Linked DNA regions of Homo sapiens. The protein of the gene in region 3 purifies or fractionates together with the protein of the main gene of each other region. This does not show direct contact. Each region holds a gene or a part of one and is shown on either strand. Other genes may lie near its edges. The genes, in order: EIF5B, LSG1, TTC29 and FBXW8.

Region 1 (7,026 bases), on a different chromosome or scaffold from region 3:
GTGGCATCATCTTTCAAATCAATACTGCAGATTGGAACTTTACAAAATTTTATATTTGTTACTATTTGATATAAGACTATTTGGGGGCCTGGCACAGTGGCTCATGCCTGTAATCCCAACACTTTGGGAGGCCAAGGCAGGAACATCACTTGAGTTCAGGAGTTCAAAACCAGCCTGGGCAATAAACCAAGACCTCATCTCTACTAAAAATCAAAAAAATTAGCTGGGTGTGGTGGCATGCGTCTGTAGTCCCAGATACTCAGGAGGCTGAGGTGGGAGGGTCACTTAAGCCCAGGAGATCAAGGCTGCACTGAGCTATGATCAGACCACTGCACTCCAGCCTGGGCGACAGGGTGGGATTCTGTCTCAATAAAATAAAATAATAATAAAAAAAGAATATTTTGGGTTTCATAATTACAGAGATACAAGTTTATATTTAGGATTATGTCTGCAGATATATATAATATTGATAAAAATTCAGATCCACATTCTCAATAAACACCTTAAGATACAACTTATATGGGCCAGGCGCAGTGGCTCACACCTGTAATCCCAGCACTTTGGGAGGCCGAGGCGGGTGGATCACAAGGTCAGGAGATTGAGACCATCCTGGCTAACGCGATGAAACCCCGTCTCTACTAAAAATACAAAAAATTATCTGGGCGTGGTGGCGGGTGCCTGTAGTGCCAGCTACTCGAGAGGCTGAGGCAGGAGAATGGCATCAACCCGGGAGGTGGAGCTTGCAGTGAGCTGAGATTGCTTGAGACACCTTCTCAAAAAAAAAAAAAAAAAAAAAAAAAAAGAGATACAACTTATGTTCTAAAATAACTAATCACATGGTAAGTGCTCAAAGCAAACTCAGTCTCTGTACTCCATAGAAGTTAACTCTGATCCTTAATCACTGTTAAAGGATTTTCCCCACCTAACTTGTATAGTGCCTGGCACTCTAATATTAATAAATCATTAATATTAACAAACTAATAATTACTAATAAATTTTAACAAAAAGTTTTATGTAGACAACCACTCTCAAGACCAGATTTCTGAATAACCAATTTGGTGAACACCATCATTAGAATGGTCTGGCTGCACCTGTGTACAAAATTATTGGCAATACAGGAGCAACTGAAGATCTCAAATATTCCTCATGGTCACCCTTGGTACTCTAGAGACACAGAAACACACAGCATACTCCCATTCCTTCCAATCTGCACGCTCTCTTGATGGCAAACTTAATTAGAAAAGGATTTTAAAGATGCATAAACAATAACTTTAAGAGGCAAATGTGAAATCTCGAGGGTGGTACTCTCATACTCCATTTTCTCCCTTCAGCACTTCACTCTGTATTATCTGTGCATATGCCTATTTGCTATGTTAAAACGTAACTCCCTTTGAGAACAGCAAACTCCCTTTTGTATTCCCAATTCACCACATTTTTTTTTTTTTTTTGAGACAGGGTCTAGCTCTGTCACCCAGGCTGAAGTGCAGTGGCACAAACATGGCTCACTGCAGCCTTGACCTCCCAAGGCTCCAGCAATCCTCCCACCTCAGCCTCCTGAGTAGCTGAGACCACACGCACACACCACCACACTCAGCTATTTTTTTTAGGGGGTAGAGATGGGGTCTCCCCACGTTGCACGGGCTGGTCTTAAACTCCTGGCCTCAAGCAATCCTTCTGCTTCAGCCTCCCAAAGTGCTGGGATTACAGACATGAGCCACCGCACCCCGCCCACCTACCTATGTTCTACAAGTGGCAACCAGAAAGGCATGTTAGACATTCCTTTTTTTTTTTTTTTTTTTTGAGACAGTCTCACTCCATTGCCCAGGCTGGAGCGCAGTGGTGCAATCCTGGCTCACTGCAACCTCCACCTCCCGGGTTCAAGCAATTCTTATGCCTCAGCCTCCCAAGTAGCTGGGATTATAGGCATGCACCACCACACCTGGCTAATTTTTTGTATTTTTAGTAGAGACGGGGTTTTGCTATGTTGGCCAGGCTGGTCTCCAACTCCTACGCTCAACTGATCCACCCGCCATGGCCTCCCAAAGTTCTGCAATTACAGGCACGAGCCACCACCATGCCCGGTCGCATGTTAGACATTTCAAATAGGCACTAATAAATAAGGAAAAAGTCCTATTCTGGAGTGGCAATCACGACTCTCATACAACAGGCAAGGCTAACCAGTTTCAACACAGCAGTTTAATAAAAAACACGTCTAACACTATAATAATTACTGTACTTTTGATCATAAAACTTCCAAATGGAATTTTCTGAAGCAATAAATTGAAACGCTAGTTTAAATGCCTCTGAAAAAGTACAATGACATTTCATTTATCTGACAACACAGACAACGATTCCATTGTATGTGAATTTTCCAAATGAATGAAATGTACCACTTCTAAAAATTTATATTTAAGATATAAATGTTTCTTATAATACATTATATAATTTCTTGAAATATTTACAAATGTCTGAGGTTGTATCAAGATAATGGAGAAAAGAAAGGAGGGGGCAGAATACATATGAAATGAGATTTATGAATGAATTTGAACCTGGGTGATGGACACATGTTTGTTCATTAGACTATTCTACTTTTGTATGTGTTTGAAATTTTTCATCTAAGGAAATTCACACCACAGTAATCAAAACTGTGGTGCCGGCTGGATGCAGTGGCTCACATCTATAATCCCAGTACTTTGGGAAGCTGAAGCAGGTGGATCATTTGAAGTCAAGAGTTTGAGACCAGCCTGGCCAACATGGTGAGACCCTGTCTCTACTAGAAACACAAATATTAGCCGGGCCTGGTGGCGCACACCTAAAATCCCAGCTACTCCGGAGGCTGAGGCAGAAGAATCCCTTGAACCCAGGAGACGGAGGTTGCAGTGAGCAGAGATCACACCACTGTACTCCAGCCTGGGTGACAGAGTGAGACTTCGTCTCAAAAAAAAAAAACCCAGAAACAACAACAACAACAACAACAACAACAACAAACTGTGGTGGCAACACTGACACAGACATACAGACCAAAGAAATAAAACTTAAAGTCCGGAAATAAATCCATATATCTAGCATCTAATGATCTGACAAGGGTGCCAGAACCTTTCAATAGGGAAAGAAATCTTCTCTTCAACAAATGGTATTAGGACAACTAGATATCCACATATAAAAGAATGCAGGCCGGGTGCGGTGGCTCACGCCTATAATCCCAGCACTTCAGGAGGCCGAGGCGGGCGGATAACGAGGTCAGGAGATCGAGACCCATCCTGGCTAACATGGTGAAACCCCGTCTCTACTAAAAATACAAAAAAACTAGCCAGGCGTGGTAGCAGGTGCCTGTGGTCCCAGCTACTCGGGAGGCTGAGGCAGGAGAATGGCATGAACCCGGGAGGCGGAGCTTGCAGTGAGCTGAGATTGCGCCACTGCACTCCAGCCTAGGCGACAGAGCGAGACTCCGTCTCAAAAAAAAAAAGAATGCAGATGAACCCCTACATCATACCACATACAACAATTAATTCAAACTGGAACAAAGACCAAAATGCAAGAGATAAGGCAATAAAAGTTTTGTTTTTTTTTTATTTTTAGAGATGGAGTCTCACTCTGTCACCCAGGCTGACGTGCAGTGGTGCAATCTTGGCTCACTGCAACCTCCGCCTTCCAGGTTCAAGCAATTCTCCTGCCTCAGCCTCCCGAGTAGCTGGGACTACAGGCGCGTGCTACCACACCCGACTAATTTTTGTATTTTTAGTAGTAGGTTTTGCCATGTTGGCCAGGCTGGTCTCGAACTCCTGACCTCAGGTGATCCACCCACCTCGGCCTCCCAAAGTGCTGGGATTACAGGCATGAGCCACTGTGCCCGGCCAGCAATAAAACTCTTAAGAAAACATACAGGTAAATCTTCACGACCCTGGATTTGGCAACAGATTATCTCAGATACAACACCAAAATGCAAGCAACAACAACAAAAATAAACTGGACTTCAACAAAATTTAAAACTTTTGTGAAAAAGAAACTTTAAAAGACAGTGGAAAAAACAAACTACAGAAATCAGAGAAAGTATCTGCAAATCATATATCTGATAAGGATCTAGTATCCAGACTATATCAAGACCTCTTACAACCCAACAATAAAAATACAACCCAGGCTGGGTGCGGTGGCTCACACCTATGATCCCAGCACTTTGGGAAGCCAAGACGGATGGATCACCTGAGGTGAGGATTTCGAGACCAGCCTGGCCAACATGGTGAAACCGCATCTCTACTAAAAATACAAAAATTAGCTGGGCATGGTGGCACTGTAGTCCCAGCCACTTGGGAGGCTGAGGCATGAGAATCGCTTGAATCCAGGAGGCAGAGGTTGCAGTGAGCCAATATCACGCCACTGCACTCCAGCCTGGCCAACAGAGTAAGACCCGGTCTCAAAAAAAAAAGAAAGAAAGAAAGAAAGAAAGAAAAAGACAACCCAGGCCAGGCACAGTGGCTCACACCTGTAATCCCAACACTTTGAGAGGCTGAGATGGGAGGATCACTTGAGGCCAGGAGCTGAAGACCAGCCTAGGTAACAAAGCGAGACCCCATCTCTACAAAAAATTTTTAAAAATTAGCTGAGTACAGTGGTGTATGCCTGCAGTCCTAGCTACTGGGGAGGCTGAGGAGGGAGGACTGCTTGAGTCCATGAGTTCAAGGTTACAGGGAGCGATGATCACACCATTGCACTCTAGCCTGGGTGACAGAGTGAGATTCCATCTCTCAACAGAAAGGAAGGAGAAAAGGAGACAAAAAAGACAAAATTTTACAATTTACCAAAAAAAAAGGAGGGGGAGGAATGATTACATTAACAGCAACAAAAATTCTGTGATACATGGGAAAAAGCCAAATCCTAAAGATTAAAATGAAGAAAATAATATTTTACTGTTATAGAATTAAATTAACCAACTAAATGGAGAGGCAAATCATATTACTTATTTGTTCACAAATATATTTCTAGCATCCAGAAAAATATCTGGCACTCAAGTGCTTAAATCTCAATATATTTCTTGAATGGAATGATTCAACACCATAAAGATGTCAAGTGTCACAAATAATCTATAAACTTAATGGACTCCCAATTGAAATCAATCTCAACTGATATTTACCTTGGCAAGTATTACATTTAAAAAAAAAAAGGAAAAATCTCAAATTGTTAAAATATCAAGAACATTAACATGCCCACAGATGTCTTCAGTTGCCTTTAAGTGATTCTCAAGCATTCTCAGCACCTGTAAGACATACATGAACGATGGTCAAACAGCTTGAGAAATGTCTCACAAATGCCTAAATCTAGTTTAGAAATCCCTAGGCCAGCAGTCCTCAAATTCATTCCCAAGGTCTCTTTAGGGAATCTAAACTATTTTAGGGGGTCAAAACTATTTTCAAAATAATACTAAGAGGATACTAGCCTTTTTCATTCTCATTTTCTCACAACTGTACAGGGGAGTTTTTCAGAAGCTAAATGATGTGTGATGATGCTGCAGATCAAATGCATAAGCAAATGTGAGGATCTATCTTCTATTAAGTCATATAATAGTGAAGATGTTTGCAAAAACGCTTAGCTCTTCTATTTTTGAAAATATGGTTATTTAATAATGTTATGTATCATAGTGTAAGTTTATTTTTATTTTTAAATTAAATATTTGAAGAACTTTTCAGTTTTAGTTTGTAATACCTGTAACTGGTAGATATAACCTACATACACAGAAGCCTTTTGTGTTCCTTAGGAATTTAAGAGTGTAAAGGAGTCTAGGACCAGAATTTGAGAATTGCTATTCTAACCTAACCACTGACACTCAGTTCCTTGGTAAAACAACACTCTGCCCACCTTATAGATCAACTGCAATACTGGAATAAACTTAGAAGCATAAATAAAGCACAACAAATGAGCAAGTAACATTAAAAGTAGCTGAATGAGTTCCCCACAGGGACAGCATGGAAGGCTAGAGAGGTTACTATCAACAAAAATCTATAATCTGTTTTCTTATTAATTTATAGCAAACTAGGACTTCTTCCCCTACCACTTCCTAAAGCGTCAGGATAGGAACAGGCTAGACCAAAAGAATTCTGATTATGCATCTTTTTTTGATGTAATTTATGCAGACAAGAGTTTCATTCAAATATATGCAAGTAAGAAATGAATTCCTTTATTAAACCTAGGCTATGTGTATTATATTTGTTTGATATGTGGATATTGAATCCTAGCCTTTGTCTCAACAAGTTTCCCGAGTCAACTGAAAAAGGTCAGGAAAACTTGCTGAACAAACACCACATCAAAATCTCATTCTTAGAATTACACAAACTGGGGCTGAGCGTGGTGAATCACACCTGTAATTCCAGGCCTTTGGGAGGCCAGGGTGGGAGGATCACTTGAGTTCAGGAGTTTGAAACCAGGCAGCCAACATGGTGAAACCCTGTCCCTACTAAAAACACAAAAATTAGCCAGGTGTTGGGCGCCTGTCATCCCAGCTACTTGAGAGGCTGAGGCAGGAGAATCGCTTGAGCCCAGGAGGCGGAGGTTGCAGTGAGTGGAGATCGCGCCACTGTACTCCACCCGGGGTGACAGAGCAAGACTCCATCTCAAAAAAAAAAAAGAAGATTTTTCACAAACTGGAACAGAATTCTAGAACTTGGTCTTTAAGCAAAATTCTAGAATTCTAAAAATACACAGACAAGAATAAATATCTTGATCACTGACACATGCTGTACAAATAAAATTAGGTAAGTTAAAATCTAATTTTAAATGAATACTGAGTGGCTAAGAAGTTAAAATAAGGATTAATTAAATATAAGAATTAAGGACAGTGAGTATTGTATGTTCTGTCCAAGAACTGAAAAGTGGCTCCATGCCTTCTCTTGATAACTAAATAAGCAGTTGTCATTTCTCACACAGTTCACACCTTGCCAGAAACATGCCTGACATAGCCAAGGAGGGGAGGTGGAATGACAGTAAAATCTTTAAAGTGTGGACCTTCACCCAGGAGAATAAAACCGGATCTCTATC
Region 2 (7,026 bases), on a different chromosome or scaffold from region 3:
TTTACATACCATACAATTCACCAACGTAAAGTGTGTAATTCAATGGTCTTAAGCATATTCAGAGTTGTGTGACCATCGCTACAGTCAATTTTAGGACATTTTTATCACTGCAAAAGAAAGACCTCAATCTTCCCATTCCTCCCATCCCGAAGCAACCACTAATCTACTTCCTCTATATGGAGATTTGCTTATTCTGGACATTTTAAATAAGTGGAATAACCAGTGAAGATGGGGGCTAGGTAGTAAATACCGCAGCTTCCCTGTCACCCGGTGGTTACATTCTACATGTTCCTTAGTGGACGTGAGCCCCCGCTGTACACTAACTGAACCCAAGTCCCTTGTTTAGAGTCGGAGGAACCCAACTAGGACACTCAGAATGGGGAATTTCTCTTTCACCTTCGTCCCAAATGTGTCTCGTGAACCATCCCTTGCAAATTTTTTTTCTTGTGATGCAGTCTCACTCTGTCGCCCAGGCTGGAGTGCAGCGGCGCAATCTCCATTCACTGCAAACTCTGCCTCCCTGGTTCAAGTGATTCTCCTGCCTCAGCCTCCCGAGTAGCTGGGATTACAGGTGCGCGCCACCACGCCTGGCTAATTTTTTTGTATTTTTAGTAGAGACGGGGTTTCTCCATGTTGGTGCGTGAGCCACTGTGCCCGGCCAGGAGTAGGATTCTCGGGCTCCCAGATGACTCCTTTTTGTCAGAGTTGGTGTTTCCAGGAGGCCCTTGGTCTTGACATGGAGACTGTTGGGTGCAGCCGTGCTCTGCAAGAGCAGGGCCCGTTCTACAGTGCTAGTGTCTTGGGACGGTTCCACAGGCAACAGGCAGCTTCTGCTCTTTTCCATCTGCACAATGCAGATGACATTTCTGTTGCAGCCCAACCTCACATATCCAGGTGCTTGTAGAGTCTACGACTTTTTTCTTTTTTATTTCTGTTGCCATGTTTTTTCCAGGGCTTCCCCGCCCCGTTCTCAGAGCTCGCAGTGGATGCAGTCACTACACCACTCCCGGGCTTGTAACCCATCACAGCCTGGACTCCTTTGGTCAAAGCCCTCACATTCTCCTAGGAAATAAGAGAAAACATTATCTGAGCTGTCAGCAGGCTATCCTTTAAGGGATATGCACAGTACTATTAGTGGATCACTTCAAGATAAAAAGGAGTCAGTCACTGGGTGAACTTCCGCCCCCCTCCCCTTCACTGGTCCTCTTTCTCCCCCCAGCATTCTGTCTTCAGTTCATCTCTTCCCCCTCCTCATTCCCTCGTCAACTTTGTTTAGTCCCATACTTTCAAATGCCATCTACAACTAGACTTAATACCAGCTGTGTTCTGGAAATTTGTCTTAATATCAAAACTTAACCTGTTTCAACCACATTAGAAATGGACTCTAAACAAATTTTAAGTTTACTTAGTAAAAAAAAAAATTAGTACCCTACGATTTGCAAGTTACTTATAATAGTAAAATATTACTCTAGAGGTTACAGTTTAGACATATGAATTATATTAAAATTATGACAAGTTTTCAGCTTTCTTGTACATAGCTTTTAGAAACCTGTAAACATTTAAAATTTCACATGAAATGTTCTGTATGACAGCTGTAGGCCCAAGAATAAACTTGCAATCTTTTTGCATGTTGGTAAATTTTCTTCCAAATACTGGTATGTACCAACTTGAAAATAATTCAAACTAGGAGCTACAAACATCTAAGTTTTATCCCAGCTTTGCAATTTAAAGCATGCCCTTGGGTAACTCAGTCTCTTTGAGCCTCAGTGTCCTCAAGGAATAATACTTGCTTGGCCTGCTTCACAGGCTCATTGTGTAAGGCATGCAGATAAAGCACGGGATAAATACAAAAACATTCTCTGGATATAGCTGATCACCCCATCCTAACCCCTGTCCTATTTTCGCTATAGTAGTCACTTAAAAACATTTTTAACCTACACTGGGTACAATTATGTGATTTAGCTCTTTTGCATGTACATTTGACCTTTAAAATACTGCCTACAAATTGTAGCTGTGATATAAGCAACTGAAGTTATCAATATTTTAAAGTGCAGAAGACATTTATGAAGTCTGTTTCTTTAGCACTTTCTATCACCAAATGTGTTGGCTCAGAGAAAAGACAACTGACTAAATGGGTGCAAATATTTGTAAATCATAAATCTGATATGGGACTTGTATCCAGAATATATAAAGAACTCTTACAACTTAATAATAGACATTTCTCTAAAGAAAATATACATGTGCCAACGAGCACATAAAATGACGCTCAGCATCACTAGTAATTAGGGAAATACTCATCAAAACTATAATGCAATACGTCACATGTATTAGGATGGCTAAAATAAAAAAAAAATGGGAAATAATAAACATTGACAAGGATGAGGAGACAATTAGAAACCTCCTACATCACTGGGAGTAATGTAAAACAGCACAGCCACGTTTGGAAAGTTTGGCAATACCTCAAATGTTAAACATGGAGTTGCAATACAACCCAGCAACCCCACGCCGAGGTATATACTCAAGAGAGACGAAATCCATGTCTCCACAAAAACCTGTACACAAGTGTTCATTACACCATTATTCATAGTAGCCAAAAAGTGGAAACAACCCAAACGTCCCTCAAATGATAAATAGATAAACAAAATGTGGCATATCTATACAATGAAACATTATTCGGTAATAAAAAGGACTGAAATACTGACACAGGCTACAACATGGATGAATGTTTAAGATACCACGCTAAATGAAAGAAGCCTGTCACGAAGAGCACACAGTATGATTCCAGTCACGTGAAGTCTCCAGAACAGGCAAATCTGTTCATAAAGATTGATTATTGGTTGGCAGGGGCTGGGGGAAAAAAGGGGACAGGCAGTAACTGCTAATAAATAAGGTTTCGGCCGGGCGCGGTGGCTCACGCCTGTAATCCCAGCACTTTGGGAGGCCGAGGAGGGTGGATCATGAGGTCAGGAGATCGAGACCATCCTGGCTAACAAGGTGAAACCCCGTCTCTACTAAAAATACAGAAAATTAGCCGGGCGTGGTGGCGGGCGCCTGTAGTCCCAGCTACTCGGGAGGCTGAGGCAGGAGAATGGCGTGAACCCGGGAAGCGGAGCTTGCAGTGAGCCAAGATTGCGCCACTGCAGTCCGCAGTCCGGCCTGGGCGACAGAGCGAGACTCCGTCTCAAAAAAAAAAAATAAAAATAAATAAATAAATAAATAAATAAATAAATAAATAAATAAGGTTTCTTTTGGGAATTATTAAACCCTTTTTGGAATTATTAAACCCTTTTTGGGGTTAATAAAATGTGTTTATGGCATGTGATACTCAATAAAGCTGTTATAAAAAGAGTGTTGGATCAGAAGTTTAAGAAAAGCTTTAAAACTTACTTGATGGAAAAAAGTTTTGTCAACGATATTTTCAATCTGCTTTGCTTTTTTATTTCTGCCTAGCTGCATTTTTATTTCATCACTGTTCATTTTGTTCTCTAGGAGTCGCTGGTGTTGATGCTGAAAAGTTACAGGATCTCTTCCAGGAGGAGGATGGCAGTACAGCAGCTTACCCTACAAAGACAACATGAATGACAACAGTGCAGCCTAAGTGCCATCTGTGGCCTCAGAGGAGACAGCTCCACCCAGTCACACTCTGATGGAGCTTTCTGCCTTCTGGTTAAGTTAGCTGAGTTGAGTTTTGGTCTACTGCAGCTGAAGAGTCCTTTTTCTAATACATCAATGGTCAAAGTGTTCTAGAGACCTAGCTCTTCCCATGGCGCCCCAGACTAGGATGAAATCTCTTTCTTCTTTTCTCGTTTGCATTCCCACTCAAGTATTCTTCAGTATACGGACATGATCATACTTATGGTGAATATTTTCCAAAACAAAACTCAAGACATAACTGGACAGTTACGGTAATGCCGGGTTAGACTGTTAAAGTCAGGAGAGTTCCTCGACTCCTGTATGTGGGGTTGCAGTTGCTCACTGGGTGCAAGTCTGCCTCTTTCCATCATAAATGATCTGAAGGCTGTGACTATTTTTACCTCATCTTTACATCCTCCACAGTAAGTGGTAAACGAATACATGACTTATCCATACCAATAGCATGAACTGCTTTCTTCCTGAACTGAAGGCAAGCCCATATGGTTGCCACTGAGCTCCAAGAGCTCCACCGATGTGGTCTTGAGAAGAGGAGGAAATAAAGCCAAATCCTCACAACTGGTTATTAACAGGGCCCTGTAATGCTTATTTGTGGAAAGAAACTTAATAGATAACAATTACTGGGGGCTCATTATGTGCCAGGCATTGAGCTTAGTGCTACACACACACACACACACACACACACACACACACAGACAGACACACACACACACACACACACACACACACACACAGACAGACACACACACACACACACACACACACACACACACACACACACACACAGAGTTTTCATTTATTTCCCATAATAATCTCATGAGATAGGCCCTGTTCATCTCCATTTTACTATGGGGAAACCCCCAAATAGCATGTTCTCATTTGAAAAGGAGAAATAGTAATCTCACAGACTTGTTACATATTTGTACTGAGAAGACGCACGTAAAACAGAACTATTTCTAGCAGGGTTAGCTTTCAAGAAATGTTAGCTGTTATCGTTACTAGGCAAATATAGAGATAGGCATATAAACAGCTATACTACAAAGAAGACTGTGACAATAGTTGCAATCATAACAAGCAAAGGGCTGTAGGAGACAAAAAAAGCCAGATGCATATATTGGTGATTTTCACTCATAATAGGTGTTCAGAGATCTCCATCTTTTGTAATGTCTATAATCCATATAATGTTAACTACCCTACATCAAGAACACAACTCCAGTTTCAATGAAAAAATATTTCCTTTATAATCGAACAGGTTACCATTATCTAAGAACGCAGAATGTGGAAAAGACTTGTGTATTGGAGAGCATGAGAGGCAGGGTTCACTTACACTGACATAGTCCTTCAGGATGTAGCGCGCAGATCGAGGCTGGTCTGGCTGTCCATGCGCTGTCATGAATCCTCGCATGTCTGTGGAGAGAAAAGAATTTTGCAAAATCTTAGATGACAGAATATCACAACAAAGACAACTGAGGTGATGTAGCTTCTATTACTAAGCATTCTTACTCTTGGATTTTAAAAAATTAGGTATCATTGTAGAATATATATTGTTTAGCATTAAAAACACTAGATAATCCAGGAGAATATTTACTTATATCTGATATCCTAAAAATGCCACCTAGCACCACGCTATGAAAGACAAATTCGATTTCTCTCTACTCCAGTTATTTCTTCTCTTTATTTTATTTTTATTTTATTTTTTGTTGAGATGGAGTCTCGTTCTGTTGCCCAGGCTGGAGTGCAGAGGCACAATCTTGGCTCACTGCAACCTCCACCTCCCAGGTTCAAGCAATTCTGATGCCTCAGCCTCCCAAGTACCTGGGATTACAGGCGCATGCCACCACGCCTGGCTACTTTTTGTATTTTTAGTAGAGATGGGGTTTCACCACGTTGTTCAGGCTGGTCTTGAACTCCTGACCTCAGGTGATCCACCCACTTCGGCCTCCCAAAGTGCTGGGATTACAAGCGTGAGGCACTACACCCAGCCTCCTTATTTTAAACATTTATTCATGGAGGCTACCTGTAGGAGAATGCTACGCTATCAATACTACTTGCAAAACAGAAAGCAACAGAGAAGTTTTCTTACTGAATGATGTACCTACATTTTTTTCCCCAGTAAGATCCCTTTAATACTAACTCAATTAGAAAAGCAGCGAAGCATGGTGGTTAAGAACACGGCTTCAGCAGACAGGCTGCGTTCAAAACTCAGTTCCCTCACATACTAGCTGTCGACTGGCTTTTCCAGTTTCGAAGAAAATAGTTAGAATCCTAATTTACACAATATACAACAATAAATTTCGTCAGATTAAAAATCTAAATGTTAAAAAAGTAAGTAAATATTACAGGAAGATAGTTTTATCTTTTTGGGAGGGAGAAGACCTTCCCAAGTAAAACACCAAACCCAGTCAAACCAAAAAGGAAAAATATAGTCTATTAAAATTGTCAACTTCTTTGGGGCCAAAGAAACCATAAATTAACATTGGAAAAAATGTGTAGCACATATAACAAAGAACTTTTACAAATCATTAAGACAGAACCATGTATAGGAAAATGTGATTCCCAGAAGAAAAATAAATGGTCACAAAACATTTGGAAAGATGCTCAACTTCACTAGTATTTAAAGAAATACAAAGTAAAATGAGAGTAATCTGGCAATATCTTTGAAAATTTACTGTCAGAGATTTTCTTCTATATGGACTTGCAGATAGTGAACTTAGAAATTGTACGTGTGGTCATTTGCTTTTACAAACTGGCTTTTTCCTTACTCTGATTTTATCAGGCAGCATTAGATGAAACATCTTAAAAGACTCACATTATTTTCAGTTGTATCGGAAGTACAATCAAACTGGAAGTTTGGTGGAAGTCCACCTTTCTGCATTTTGCAGGCTAACATCCTGCAGGGAGATCTCACCCAGGCTATTCCACTGACCAGCCACCTCACCTTGGGTCAGCTCAGGCTCTGAGTTCGGATGATTACTCTTAAAAGCAGGGGCTAGGAGGTGAGGTGATCTTTAAGGTCTTTTCTTGTTCTATGAATCTGTAATTAGAATAGTCTTACCACAAGTGTTTAGTATTTATCCTCTTTAGAGTCTCTAAGTTCAAGGTTTAAGTGTGATTCATATCAAATCACCTTTCACCTTTCTCTGCCAGTAAATACTCAAATAAGCTGAACTCCTTCCCAACCAGCAGCAATCCCTGTAAAGGCAAGTCACCCACGCACGGAAATGTTTCCCACACTGCTATTTTTTTTTTTTTTTTTTTTTTTAGGTAGACACAAGGTTCTCCAGGCCACCTTTAAAGTTTACATTTAAGGCAAGAAATCATAGGTTCCCACGTGGAATTGGGATAAAACACAGAGGTGGGAGAGCTGTGGACTCA
Region 3 (7,026 bases):
CTGGGTGAACTCTTCAAAGACCCCTGCAATTATGAAGAGATTACCCTGGCCCCAGTGCCCACTGCATAATGCTTTGGCAAGTAAAGTGGGGCTTTTAGAAAAGAGTCTAAAATTTATAGAGGATGGAATGCCCCAAATGAGGCAAACTTAGTTGTTTTCTTCTCTCCCTTTTTAAATTTACTAGGGCTACACTGGTGTGGGTTAAGAACTTAGATGATTCCGATGTTCACTGTAACATTGGAAGACTCTGGAACTCTGTGGAAAAGTCTTCACAGCTCCTCTGAAGTAAGCTCTTGGGAGGCCCGTTTGGGGAGCTTTGGTGTCCCTTCAAACCTCACATGAGTTATAACTTCTTACCATATGCTCTGTATGATGCTGCCATTTAGTAAGTTCTTGTTATTCCAGTAACTCAACTGTTTAATATAACATCTAATCAGAAAAATAGATTTTTTAAATTAAAAAAATTGTCATTACGTTATGAAGTTATAAAGGGTAATATAGTATGTTTCTAATGTTTAGTCTGTAGGAGAGGACTAACATTTGCTGTTTAGATTGTGCACTTTAAAGCATAGACCCTTTAAAGGGTAGACCCTTTGCTTTCCAATTAATGTTCATTAACTTCCACTCTTAATGCCTTAACTGCATAAAATAAGTGGGCATTTTGTTTCATAGATCATATCATGCCTTGATAAACTGGTAGTACTAGGATTCTGTTATATTTAAAATAAACCACTGATCTCCATTAGAATTCTCTTTAATTATGTAAAAAATTATTTTTAGGCCAGGATAATAATCTTTTTCAGTAACACAAAGCTGTCTATTTCTACACTGAATTTCAGAAGATTTTCTCTCGTCTTAGTGCTTCTGCACCCCTACCTCCACCATGGCTTTGTAGCACTAGAGGAATATTGTGTCTTAGCTATCCACAGGTGGTTCTATTTCAGGTTTGACTACATCTCTCCTTCTCTACTCCTACCTAAGCCACCACTCTCTCTCCCCTGTATTTCACAGGAGGTTTTGGGCTGGCCTCTCTGCTGTCTACCCTTTCCCCCACTACAGTCTAACCTGAAAGAAAAACTCAGAGTGATTTTTTCAGGATGCAAGTCAGATCGTGTCAATTCTATGCTCTGTATCCTCCAATGGATTCTTACCTCAATAAGAATAAAAGCCAGTTTTTAGAGTAACCATCAAGACATTACACTATTGGGACACCGAACAAAATTCTCCATAACGTCTTTGAGCTTGTCTCCTTCTGCTTTTACTCATCCCTTTGCCATTGGTGAGCATCTGGGTAGTTTCTAGTGCTCTGCTTTGTTTTCCAGCAGAGAATCTTATCAACATCTGAGGTTCTATATATTTTGCTTATTTGTTTAGTGTCTTTCTCCCTATTTACCCCCATACTGCAAAGTCTGTGAAATCAGAGAGTTTTGTCTTTTTCTTCACTGCTGTATCTTTGGCACCTAGAACAGTGCCTGGCACCAAATAGGAGCTCATTAAATATCTGCTGAATATATTCAAGGCCCAGATTTTATTGTGATTTTCCCTGGGTCACACAGGTAGTAATGCTGAAGATAAGCCATTTAAAACCTAAAACAAGCCTTTCAGCTTCTTGGTGAAGCTAAGAGTACAGGTCAAACCTGGTGGACATAGACGGGGTGGGATCAGGAGCCCCTGGCCTTTTGGATGCCTCTCTATTTAACAGAAGCATGGGTTCTTTTGTATCTGACAGCCCTTGCACCATGTAACAATTTTTCTATTCTAAGTTCACAGATGTCATGTCCACACTTCTTCCTCTTTGGAATAGGATTTAGATAATTTGATTTTATAGACTTGCCTTCCTAATTGCTCACCACTCTGGCACACTGCATTTTCCAAAAAGGGCTGCAATAATATCTCCCATGCCATATTCTTTTATTATAATGAAACTTTGACACTCTCCTATCAATAGGTGGTTCTGTATTCATTTGCCTTGAATCTGGGTGAACTTGTTATTACAGTAGAAGTGGATGCTATGTGACTTCCAAGGTTAGACCCTAAAAGGGGATAAAGCTTCTGCCTGGCTTTTCTCTAAAATACTTGCCTTTGGAGCCTGGAGCTGCTATATAAGAAGTCTTAGGTTGCCATGATGTGAGGGAGTCCATGCCACATGAGGAGACCACATGTGTGAGTTCTGGCAGATAGCCCCAGTTGAGTCCCAGCTAACAGCATCAACCACTAGAAAAGTGAGTGAAGACACTTCAAGGTGATTCCTGTCCCCTGTCATTGGGTTACTACAGCTTCTGAGTTTTCTCAGCAGAGGCTCCCATCATCATGGAGGAGAAAAAATCCATGCCTATGATACCCTGTCCTTATTCCTGAACCATGTAAAGTGTGAGATAAAGTTGTTTTAAACAACTTTTAAAAAACAGTACATTTTGAAGTGATTCATTATATTGTTATGGCTGTGTGCTTTCTCAGGGTAGCTGTCTCCTTGTTGAGAATTGTTCTTATCATCTATCACATCTAAGGGAAAGCCTTTATTTGTGAGCGATAAGGCTTTTAGAAAACAGCAAGTATAAGCAATTTTCAATTATTGATTGTAACAGGAAAGCAACACATAAACATTGGAAATCCATAGCTATCCTTAAAATCTTTATTCTTTAATTGCAATCATGTCCCTTACAAAACTCTTACCAAAGATGCCAACTGAACCATCAATGCATTTATCAAATTTTCTTCTTATCTACTTTGTGCTGAAGATACAGACAAATAATAAGTTGGCCAAAAAGCAGACAATGGAAGAAAATAATGAGAGAAGCAACCTGCAGAATCCACTCACTGAGCATGATTCCCGAATAACACAGCTGTAGCACTACACATAGGCATTCTCAACTAAGATGACAGACTGTAAATCTCTAATAATGTCTTAAAGGATCCTTTGAAAGATTTATTCCTTAAAATACAATTTCTACTTATTTCTTTTTGTAGTCCGAAATGACCACCCTGCCCCCACTGCCCATGACACGCCCGAAGCTTACAGCCTTAGCCAGACAGAAGCTGCCTTGCTCCTCCAGAAAAATTCCAAGGTACGTGCCCCTGGTTTTTACTTATTTTCCTACAGAAGGAATTTTCTGTAATAAGAAATGTCAATAATGTATCTCAGAAAATAAAATCATTTCAAGAGAAGAGAAAAATGCCTTGTTATATTGAGAATATTGAAATCTGCTGTTTCAAAAGGATTTATGAACCACATTCAAATACTGCAAATATATTTATTTATTTATTAACCTAGTGCTTATTTCATCATTTTATTTCCTGTTGCAATTATATCATGGTTCCCGTAGAGTTTTGGAGATAAGTTTCCTGTTTTAAATGTGTATGGAGAACAGAAAGCAGAAGCTTTGGGAATGAAAGGTGTAAAGCTTTTTTCTTTTTAAGGCAGAGTCTTACTCTGTCACCTAGGCGGGAGTGCAGTGGTGTGATCTCAGCTCACTGCAATCTCTGCCTCCTGAGTTCAAGCAATTATCGTGCCTCAGCCTCCTGAGTAGCTGGGACCACAGGCACGCAGCACTATGCCCAGCTAAGTTTTTGTATTTTTAGTAGAGACAGGATTCACCATGTTGGTCAGGCTGGTCTTGAACTCCTGGCCTCAAGTGATTCACCCGCCTTGGCCTCCCCAAATGCTGGGATTGTAGGGATGAGCCGCCATGCCCAGACTGAAAGGTGTAATGCTTTTAATCTACAAGGTCCCAAGGGCTGACTTCTGTTTTGGAAGAAGGAGGGTAGAGCCTTACTTGTAGGGTAGATTGGCAGGCAAGAATCAGCTCCTGAAATGATGCTGGGGCTTGAAAATGCATCATCAAACTGCTGCTGCCCATGAATGGCTGCTGAGCTACTCAAATTGTCACTGAGGAAATGCAGGACAGAGAAATTGATACATTTTGTCATAATTATCATATTAACTGATTGTGCTATTTTGAAATTGCCATTTGTAATTCTATTGACTTTTAGTAACATACATATTAGTTACCAATATAAATAGTTTGCATACGTAGGTTTATTTTCTTTATATGCCTACTTTTCCATTCCTGCAAGGCATAATGATCAAAGTATTAGGAGGTTTCTTTGTTCTCATGCCTCATTTTTAGTATTTCTAGGAAATACCAAAGCCCCTGGAACAAAATAAATACATTCAGCTAAACTAACATAAAAATTCTTTAAAAATAGTAAATCAAAATTTTCTTTTCCTATAGCGGAGAAATCTTTCAATGAATGCATAATTCATGTGTGTACACTATAATATATATACATACATATTTTTGTTTTACTTTTGAATAATGTAAAATATTTATGAAGTCTGAAAAAGCTTATTCTTTCTGTCTTTTTAAAGGATTTAATTTATATTTTGTTTTCAAGGTGAGCAAAAGCATAGCCAAATCTCATATCCTTAGGTTAGGATGAGTTTTAAAGAAAACGTTTTCTTGTATTCATTTTATTGAAGAAAAATATTTTTATCATACCCACAAAAGGCAAAGTTTGTATCAACATTCTTTAATAGCTTCTGAATAAAACACTGATATTTGTTTAGTTCCATATCAATCATCATAGTTATGAGAGGTTGATAGCATGCTTATTTTTAAAGGTGCAAAAGGGTGTGAAGAATGAACGCACTACAAGTATAATACATTTTCAATAAGGGCTTCTTAAAATCATTTTGCACCTTGAACCTTTAATAATTTGAGTTTTATGTGTGATTAAAAAAACTATTCAAAGAACATTTCAGGACAAAATTGAGTAATGTTTGGAATAAATTCACGTTACACATTTGAATCAAACAGGTGTTCTTGGCTCAGGATTCTGTGCCAAACAATATATAACTTCAGCAGTTGGAAAGTTACACCACGAAAAAATGTGAGCAAAATAGAAGGTCTTGTAAGCTTTGAGAAGACTCTTGAGTAGAAAGTGAATTATTTCAAGGTGTTGGTGTTTTATTTGTTTACACACTGGGTTTAATATTCTTCCTTATCATTTTCCATTCAGGAAAGATAAAATTTTGAAATGATCAACCAACGACCTAACTCTATAGCTATTGCGTTTATTACATATGGTATTATACCCTGAATATTTCTATTCTCCTGGTGGCATTTTATGTGTTTGGTAGCTTTTCAACTTGATAAGGCTGTGCTTTATTATTTCTTTCTATTTCATTTAGGTCTCAATTGATCAAAGAAAAAGATGACATAGATCATTATCTAGAGGTAAATTTCAAAGGATTATCAAAAGAGGAAGTTGCTGCGTAAGTACAACCTTTAAAGGTACTTTAATATAAAGTTTGTTTCTTTTGTCTTGATTCTTTATTGAAATTTCAATTTTCCTGTGTAATATACTTTTTCATTGGAACATGGCATTTAAAAATTAAAGCTCATATTAAATAGTGATAAGTCATGTCTATTGATCTCACACATATCAAAGTCTTTAATTTTATGGCTCTCAAAATTCCCATATTTACCAAGATATTATACTATCACATTTGCAATATTTAGTTAAGTCTGTGCTATTAATTGCTTGTTAACCTTCATTTTAAGGTGTGTTGTCTCCATGGGAAAGAAAAAAGCTTTAAGAAACAGATTTATATATCTTTTCTCCTGGTGATTAAAGAAAAAGAAACACCTTACTAATGTACTAATATGTCTCCTTTTCCACCCAAGCACTCACAAAAGAACCAATGGATCATACTTTATTGGTTAATTTTTAAATAATTCCAAATTGTCTAGATTTATTTTTTAGATGAACGATACAAACTTTGACATTTTATCACCAGTTAGAATCTAATTTATGGGATGAATAAAAGCAGTACAAAAATCAATGTAGGTTAGTGAGAAATGAATAGAAACTTAGAATAATAGCTAAACAAGTTTAATATTTCTTACCTATACTTAGTGGCTCTGTTATCACATCTTTTCATGTAAGTATTGAAAAATGGAAATCTTGTAAATTTACACGTATCTTATGGAATTCATTAATTGTTTCAATTAAAATATTTTATGCAACAAATGTTTGTAAAAGATTCTCTCTATTAATTTGTCTAATGCTGTGGGATTCTACTGAAAGGGTGTTGCTAATGATATTTTGGTGTAGGTTTGATATATTCTAAAGTTCTAAGTCTCTTGGTGTTTTCCATTTTATCAGATATTATCTTTGTCAATTTGCATATAACATGGAAAAACACAGTCATTTATTTTGTCAATAACTACTTTATAGAATGACAAAATTTTACAGTAGCTGTAATCACTCACTTCTGCAGAGCTCTATAGACTACCATGTATATGGTACGTGGGATTTTTGGCTAAATGCTATTCTGATGATTAATTATTTAACTTTCCGTGATAAACTGTTAGATAAAATTTAAGGCCAATATTGTATTATAGTACAACTACTTCTTAAAAGAAAAATATATGTATGCCGTATTTGGATTCTGATTTAAATATTATATCCAAATAGTTTTAATTGGCTTAATAATTGGAATTAAATTAAAAACTAAACATGCTACACATAATTTCAACAAACTAGAAGTCCATATACTAAAAGTCTACTGACATTTAAGTTTTCAGTGCAGGCTGAAGAAAAATTTTATCTAAGACAATGCAAAATAGGCTATAGTGATGAGTATTCTCTTAATATTATTTTTCCACTAAAGATACTGCCAAATTGATTTCAAATTCATCATTACACTATTGACAACAGTAACTCTGGGTAATTCTCAGGCCTTACTACAATATTCTCCTTAAAGTTTCCTGCACTTCAGTGCTTTCTTAGACCAAAGCTCTTTCTGTAAGATAGTGGATGCAAATCATTAGTATGGAGATAGCTTGTACACAGGTCATTATTATGCTTTTGATTGATACACATTCTAGACCTTGCCCTAGACAGACTAATTGAATAGCATAAAAAGGAGAAAATTGATGAATGATTTCAGCATCTCCCAGCAATGCCCAGCAGGTGCCATGAAGAATTATGCATAGTCTGTTAGCCAGGGAATTACTGCAT
Region 4 (7,479 bases), on a different chromosome or scaffold from region 3:
TTGTATGCTACTCATAGAGAACCTAGTAGTACCTAATGTGGTGATTCTGAAGGGGGCAGAGGAGACCAGGGAAATGAATTCCAGGAAGACAGGGAAGGCCTTTTCCAACAACATGAAATAGATTCAGATGTACCCTCCAGATTCTCCAGTATGCAGGTCCCTTCTATTTTCAGAATACTACAGACCCTTGAACAACATGGGTTTGAACCGCGTGGGTCCACTTGTATGCAGGTTTTTTCCATAAACGTTGCATCGAATGTGCCTGCCTCTCCTTGCACCTCTGCCACCACTATGACAGCAAGACCAATCCCTCCTTCGTAGCAGCAGCAGCAGCCTACCCAGCATGAAGGCAATGAGAATGATGGCCTTTGTGATGAGCCACTTTCACTTAATGAATAGTAAATACATTTTCTCTTATAATTTTCTTAATGACACTTTCTCCTCTAGCTTACTTTATTATAATGCTACAGTATATAACACACAGAAGATACAAAATATGTGTTAACTGACTTATCTATAAGGCTTCTGGTCAACAGTAGGCTATTCGTAGTTAAGTTTTGGGAGAGTCAAAAGTTATACACAGATTTTTGACTGCAAGGAGGTCAGTTCTCCTAACCCCCCAGGTTGTTCAAAGGTCAACTGTACATGATTTGCTTCTTTACTATTTTTGGCATCAATGCCTATACCTCTAAGGTGTTACAAATGGAAAGCCTTGAGAATCAGGACCTTAAACCAAAGGAGGCTATACAGTAGAGTATAATGTCTTAAACTTGCCTGATCATACCAGTCATCAGATTTCAGGGCCCCTTCCCTGGTGATGGAGTTAGCAGGTCTGGGGAGGGCCCAGAACCTATATTATAACCAAGCCTCAAGTGATTCTTATGCCAACTCAAGTTCACGTGGTGAAACTTGGAGTTGAAAAGACCTGGATCCAAATTCAATCCCCAGAATCTATCAGTGGGGTAATGCTGGGCAAGTTACAGAGAATCTCTGAGTTTCTTCATTTGTAAAAGGAGAGTTAAAATCTACCTCACAGGATTGTTATATTCGAATTAGGGCAGAGCACAGGACTAAACACTTGGTAAAAACTCAAATAGTAGCTATTAATGCTATTTGAGTAAACTACATATTACATAAAATAATAGGCCATTATTTCTTGAAACAGCTTGCCACTTAAAAGAATTATTCTCGGCCGGGCGCGGTGGCTCACGCCTGTAATCCCAGCACTTAGGGAGGCCGAGGCGGGCGGATCACGAGGTCAGGAGATCGAGACCATCCTGGCTAACACAGTGAAACCCCATCTCTACTAAAAATACAAAAAGAAATTAGCCGGGCGTGGTGGTGGGCGCCTGTTAGTCCCAGCTACTGGGGAGGCTGAGGCAGGAGAATGGCGTGAACCTAGGAGGCGGAACTTGCAGTGAGCCGAGATCGCGCCACTGCAACTCCAGCCTGGGCGACAGAGCGAGCGAGACTCCGTCTCAAAAAAAAAAAAAAAAAAAAAGAATGATTCTCAATTGGGAGGATCACTTGGGCCCAGGAGTTTGAGACCAGACTGGGCAATACAGGGAGACCTTGTCTCTACCAAAAAATTTAAAAAATTAGCTGAGTGTGGTGGCGCATGCGTGTAGTCCCAGCTACGCGGGATGCTGAGGGAAGAGGATGGCTTGAGCCAGGCAGTTTGAGGCTGCAGTGGGCCGGGAGAGCAACAGTACACTCTAGCCTGGGCAACAGAGCAAGACCCTGTCTCAGAAAAGAAAGAAAGAAAGAAAAAAAAAAAAAAACAGGAAAAAAAAAAGTGGGTTCCCAATTGTAAAGCTGTAGGGACTTCCTTTGGGCCTAATTTAAATCAAACCATTAGAACCTGGAGCCTTGTCCTCTTAACCTGGGAGCCACGGATGCATTTCAGGTGTTCTTGATTTTCCCAACTTTCTGAAGGGGATTATTTTTAACGGACACAGGGTCCCCAGCTTCCTCCAGATTCTCCAAGGTATCCACGCCCCACAAAAAGATAAGAAACTCTATCCTAATGAAAGTGCCCAGGAGATTCTTCCTCCTCTTCTTCCTTTTTTTCTGAGATAATTTTTTTGAATACGTGCACGGTTACAAAAATTAAATAGTGCAAACAGTATACAAAGGTAAAATTACTTCCTATCCATCATCTGGGTCCTCCTTTTCAAAGGCAACCTTTGTTCAAAGTTTAGGTAGCCTTCAAGAGCAGGATTTCTCAACCCCACACTTACTGATATTTTGTCCTGGATAATTTTTTTGTGCGTGGTGTCCTGTACACTGTAGGATGTTCAGGAGCATCTCTGGCCTCTACCCACTAGATGCCCAGTAACATGCACACATACACACCCCGATGAGGCACCCAAAAATGTCTGCAGACACTGCCACATCTGGGGGAACAAAATCGCCCTGGTTGGGAAGTGCTGCTTCCAGAAAGACCCCTATGCAAGCACAAACATTGGTGTTTGTGCGTCTACTCATTTTCTCGGGCAACTAGTGGCACACAGTTACTCTCCAAATCACTGCAGGGGTTTGTCCTGGGGGCGGGGGCCGGCGCAGGCATGGGCGGGGGGGAGGCGACGGCCACTCACCAGGTCGCGGATGAGCTGGTCCACCAGCTGCTCCCCGCCCCCGGCGCCCTCGCGGGCCAGAGGAGAACGTGAGCGGCTCGCTACGTCCTGCCCCTCGGCCCGAGTCGCCCGCGCCGCCGGGGGCCTCCCCGCGCCCTCCAGGAGACGCTGGGCCAGCGCCGGGTCCCCCGAGGCCTGTTCGCCGCGCCCGGAGCCCACCTCCGGCCGCCGAGCCCGCCTCTCGGCAGCCTCGGGCCGTCGCCGCTTCTTCGGCGCCTGGGCCTGCGCCAGCTCCTCCTGCCAGCGCCGACGGAACTCATCCAGGCTGTAGTCGTCCATATTCGCCGCTCCCGGCGCTCCACGTTCTCCTCGGTTCCACCGGGTGCCACGAGACAGTCCCGCCCAGGGAAGTGTCCGCCGCGGCCGGAAGCCGCTGCCGCCGCCGCTCTAGGGTTCCGGGTGGGCGTCCACGCCCCCGCCACGCCCCCGGCGCTGCCCCTGTACGCACGTGGTGGTCCGGCTTGTGGCTTGTGGCGCCCAAAGCAGAGGTTTACGCAGCTGCCCCTCAGCCCGTCAGCTCTGCTGCCTATCACTTTTGCTAAGCTCTGACTTTGCGCCAAGCATTGTTCCTTCATTCAACAAACATTCATTCAGCAACTACTATATGCCAGGCACCAAGAATTCAGCATTTAAATCTGTAAAACAAAACAAAAACTCTGACGTCTTGGAGCATGCGTTTAAGTAGGGAGACTTTAAACAAAGAAATATGAACATTTAAATCAGTGATAGGTATTAGGAAGAAAACAAAATAAGGTAAGGTAAGGGGAGTAAGGATTGATAGTGAAAGTCTGTTTAAGATGTTATTTAAATTAAAATCTAAAAGAGAATCAACAGGTGGATAAAGAAACTGATATATACATATGGTGGAATACTACTCAGCCATAAAAAAGGAATGAATTCATGGCATTCGTAGCAACCTGGATGGGATTGGAGACTATTATTCTAAGTGAAGTAACTCAGGAATGGAAAACCAAACATCGTATGTTCTCACATATAAGTGGGAGCTAAGCTACGAGGATGCAAAAGCATAAGAATGACTTATGGGACTTTGGAACAGGGGAGGGGGACGAGGGGAGGGTGGGAAGGTGGGGAGGGATAAAAGACTATAACTTGGGTTCAGTGTATACTGCTCGGGTGATGCGTGCACCAAAATCTCACAAATCACCACTAAAGAACTTACTCATGTAACCAAATACCACCTGTTCCCAATAACCTGTGGAAATAAAAATTTTTTTTTAAAAATCTGAAAGAGAAACCAGCCAAGGGAAGGTCAGATCTTAGGAGAGAGATTTCCAGAAGGAAATCCAAGGGCTTTAAGATGGGAAAGAAAATGACATACGATGGCGTTCCACTTAAAAATGTTTTCTTTGCACCTGATATTCCCTCAGCAGGGAACTTTTCCCCCCACCTTGACTTGGTTAACTCCTACACATCTTTCATATCTCAACTCACATTTCACTTAATCTTCCAACCTCCACTCAAGAAACATCAGGTATCCCTGTTACTCATTCTCACAGCATCCTGTACTTCTCATCATAATACATAACACAATTTGTAATTTTATTTTTATGTATATATATATATCCCTTCCCTTCTAGATTGGCAACTCTTAGCTTTGAGACTGGTGATTAATACATGCTCAATAAATGGTTTTTTGTTTGTTTGTTTGTTTGGTTTGTTTTGTTTTTGAGACGGAGTCTCGCTCTGTTGCCCAGGCTGGAGTGCAGTGGCGCGATCTCGGCTCGCTGGAAGCTCCGCCTCCCGGGTTCACGCCATTCTCCTGCCTCAGCCTCCTGAGTAGCTAGGACTACAGGTGCCCGCCACCACACCTGGCTAAGTTTTTGTATTTTTAGTAGAGATAGGGTTTCACCATGTTGGCCAGACTAGTCTTGAACTCCTGACCTCAAGTGATCCACCCACCTCAGCCTCCCAAAGTGCTGGGGTTACAGGTGTGAGCCACCACTCCAGGCTCAAAGATGCTCTTGCAATTAACTGTCCCTTATTCCTTGTCTAACTCTTCTTAGTCTCTCAGGCCTCTTCTCTAGAATCACTTCTGTAAATAAACTAGCTGCCTACAAACCCAGGGCTCAGGCTTGCTTACTGTGGGAAACCAGGCTTGGACAACCTTCACTGTAGAAAATTAGAGTATATGGTTGGGCGTATATTCACACCACTACACTCCAGCTTGGGCGACAGTGCGAGACTCTGTCTCAAAAAAACAAAAAAAAGAAAGAGCATCTCTGAGTTGGTCCTACTGTGGCAATTTAGGCTCATTCCATTAGCACCTTCTAAGGAGCCTTAGAACACAGCTCAGAATTGTCCTCCCAAGAGATAAGAGCCAGAAGAGGAAAGCATTTGTCCAGTGACTCTCATCCCCTACTAGAGAAAGGCTAAGCCAAGGAGCTTTAACAACCTCCCACTTCTAGATTGGGTATAAGTAAACGGATTATCATGGATGTTCCGTACCAAGGCAGCAGAGATGCTCTGGGGCAAAAAGCAGGAGGTACACTGTGCAGCTAACAGGAACGACTGTCAGGTTACACGTGCACAAAGCCAGTTGCTACAGCAGTGACTAAGGTAAAAGATGAGTGAAGTGATGCAAGATGGAACATAAGCATCCAATACAAGTAAGCATTCTCTTTTTTTTCCGTAAAGGTTTTATTATACACAGAAGGGGAAGAAGTCTCAGTTCTTCTTGGCAGCCATTCGCTTCCTGGAGGTCAAGATATTGCCCAGCTCCTCTCACTTCTTATGGTGCAGATGTGTGTCCCCGCTCTCTTCTTGATGAACTTGAGGGTCCACTTTTTCTTGGAGACCTTGAACAATTCCAAGGTGCATCACTTATATAGAACAAAGCCACACACCTCTCACATCATGTCCCACACGAACTTTCTGTGCTTGGTGGGGTGCCTGCGGTGGCAGCAGTGGCCATGCTTGCTCACATTCTTGGTCCTCACCTTGTGGCCCTCACTGAGACCCACAGACATGGGAGACCACAGAAACATGGCTGCTGCTCATCAGTGGCTGCTGCCAATAAATATTATTGTAATAAAAATAAAAACGAGCTAATTTTTCCCCATTCCGCTAGCATCCCATTCATCCCATGTGCCTTCCATGTGAAATCCAAAGGTCATACTTACTTTGATTATCTACTTGCAAGTCAAAAGCCAAATATCACTTTTCTGGTATCTCTAGATTTTATGGACCATCTAACACTTAAAACAGAAAGCAAACTGGAATTAAAAAAAATGGGGTCTCACTCTGTCACTCAGGCTGGAATGCAGTGGCATGATCGTAGCTCACTGCAGCCTCGAACTCCTGGGCTCAAGTGATCCTCCTGCCTCAGCCTCCCAAGTAGCTGGAACTACAGGAGCATGCCACTATCTCAGACTAATGTTTAAGTTTTTAGTAGAGATGAAGTTGGTCAAATGGTTGGTCTTGAACTCCTGGCCTCAAGCGATCCTCCCACCTCGGGGGATTACAAGCATTAGGCCCCAAGCCCAGGCTCAAACTGGAAAATTTTAAACACCCAATTTTCCAGGCTCAAACTGGAAAATTTTAAACACCCAAGCTGGTCAAGATCAATTTTAAACACCCAAGCTGGTCAAGACCACCCAAGCTGGTCAAGATCAATGTTTCCTGTTGCCCCTTTAAAAGAACTTTTACAGGGACAGTGCAGGCAGGCTAATGGGACCATTAGTCACCCAGAGAAAATGAAAAAGAGAGAGAGAGAGAAGCATGCTAAGAAGAAGGAAAATATTGTCTTTTTTTTTAGTATTGCCTACCATTCACTGACTATATTTATGTTGATTTTATATCTTTCCAGTAGTAAATTCCTGGACCTCCATTTCCTCAAATGAAAAGTAAAGATAGAAATATCTTTCTTTCAGAATAACTGTAAGACTGATAAAATGCCTATAAAACTCTTAGCATCCATAAAACATAATGTAGGCTTTTAATAAATGATGTCTATGATCCACATTAATACAGTCTTGGCAGATAGAGATTGCATCTAACCTGTGCTCTGTAAGTCTTGTATTCCACAGGGCCCCACCTTTTATCACATTGAGGGTATACTTTTGCAAGCTCAATCTGTTAAAGTTCTTTGTTTGCAAGCAACAGACGCCAAGTCTTTCTACCTTAAGAAAAAGGGAATTAAACTCAGAGGATGGCTCACCAAGTTAAACAAAAAGAGGAATAACCAGACCCTTGGAATGCCAAGAACCAGATCAGATTTAGGGATTTCATCATGGGAACTGTGAACCATCTCTGTAGGATGGGATCGCTGCCTGTCTTTCATTTCCTAGGATTCAAATTCCGAGAGCAGAGGTTCTCAGAATGTAGCCCCTGAACCAGCAATACCTGGGAGCTTGTTTGGAATGCAAATTCTCAGCCCAGACCACTAAATTGGAAACGCTAGGGGTCCAACCCCAGCAATTTTGATTTTAACAATCCCTCCCTGTAATTCTGATGCATAACCCAGTTTGAGAACCACTCTCCTGGAGGACCATCTGATTGGCCTAAGGCAGTCATATTTCCAGCTCTTGGGAGAACAGGGAGCGGTTTACAATGTCCTGGATTTCCAGGATTTCCATGCCACCATGCCTTGCTAATTTTTCAATTTTTTTTGCAGAGACATGGTCTTCCTATGTTGTCCAGGCTGGTCTCGGACTCCTGGCCTCAAGCAATCTTCTCACCTCAGCCTGCTGAGCTGCTGGGATTTCAGGCATAAGCCACCATGCCCAGCCTGCCTCCCTCTTAGAAGGATACTTGTGATTACTAAGGGCCCACCTGGCAATCCAGGATAACCTTCCCTATCTCAAGATCCTTAATGTAGTGACAT

The links.
Region 1: the proteins of TTC29 (region 3) and EIF5B purify together in Homo sapiens (affinity purification with mass spectrometry; 2 studies listed by BioGRID and IntAct, with this or other methods). This does not show direct contact.
Region 2: the proteins of TTC29 (region 3) and LSG1 purify together in Homo sapiens (affinity purification with mass spectrometry; 2 studies listed by BioGRID and IntAct, with this or other methods). This does not show direct contact.
Region 4: the proteins of TTC29 (region 3) and FBXW8 purify together in Homo sapiens (affinity purification with mass spectrometry; 3 studies listed by BioGRID and IntAct, with this or other methods). This does not show direct contact.

The regions. Positions count from the first base shown.
Region 1 is NC_000002.12:99,340,366-99,347,391, reverse strand, and holds part of EIF5B (eukaryotic translation initiation factor 5B), read right to left. Parts: intron 1-7,026. UniProt on the Homo sapiens protein: Plays a role in translation initiation.
Region 2 is NC_000003.12:194,641,186-194,648,211, forward strand, and holds part of LSG1 (large subunit GTPase 1 homolog), read right to left. Parts: intron 6,245-7,026; exon of another isoform or gene 5,059-6,244; coding exon 4,979-5,058; exon of another isoform or gene 3,562-4,978; coding exon 3,388-3,561; intron 1,063-3,387; coding exon 883-1,062; 3' UTR 1-882. UniProt on the Homo sapiens protein: Functions as a GTPase. May act by mediating the release of NMD3 from the 60S ribosomal subunit after export into the cytoplasm during the 60S ribosomal subunit maturation.
Region 3 is NC_000004.12:146,935,843-146,942,868, reverse strand, and holds part of TTC29 (tetratricopeptide repeat protein 29), read left to right. Parts: exon of another isoform or gene 1-23; intron 24-184; exon of another isoform or gene 185-213; coding exon of another isoform or gene 214-285; intron 286-2,967; coding exon of another isoform or gene 2,968-2,973; coding exon 2,974-3,065; intron 3,066-5,191; coding exon 5,192-5,275; intron 5,276-7,026. UniProt on the Homo sapiens protein: Axonemal protein which is implicated in axonemal and/or peri-axonemal structure assembly and regulates flagellum assembly and beating and therefore sperm motility.
Region 4 is NC_000012.12:116,906,474-116,913,952, reverse strand, and holds the start of FBXW8 (F-box/WD repeat-containing protein 8), read right to left. Parts: upstream 3,004-7,479; 5' UTR 2,916-3,003; coding exon 2,598-2,915; intron 1-2,597. UniProt on the Homo sapiens protein: Substrate-recognition component of the Cul7-RING(FBXW8) ubiquitin ligase complex, which mediates the ubiquitination and subsequent proteasomal degradation of target proteins.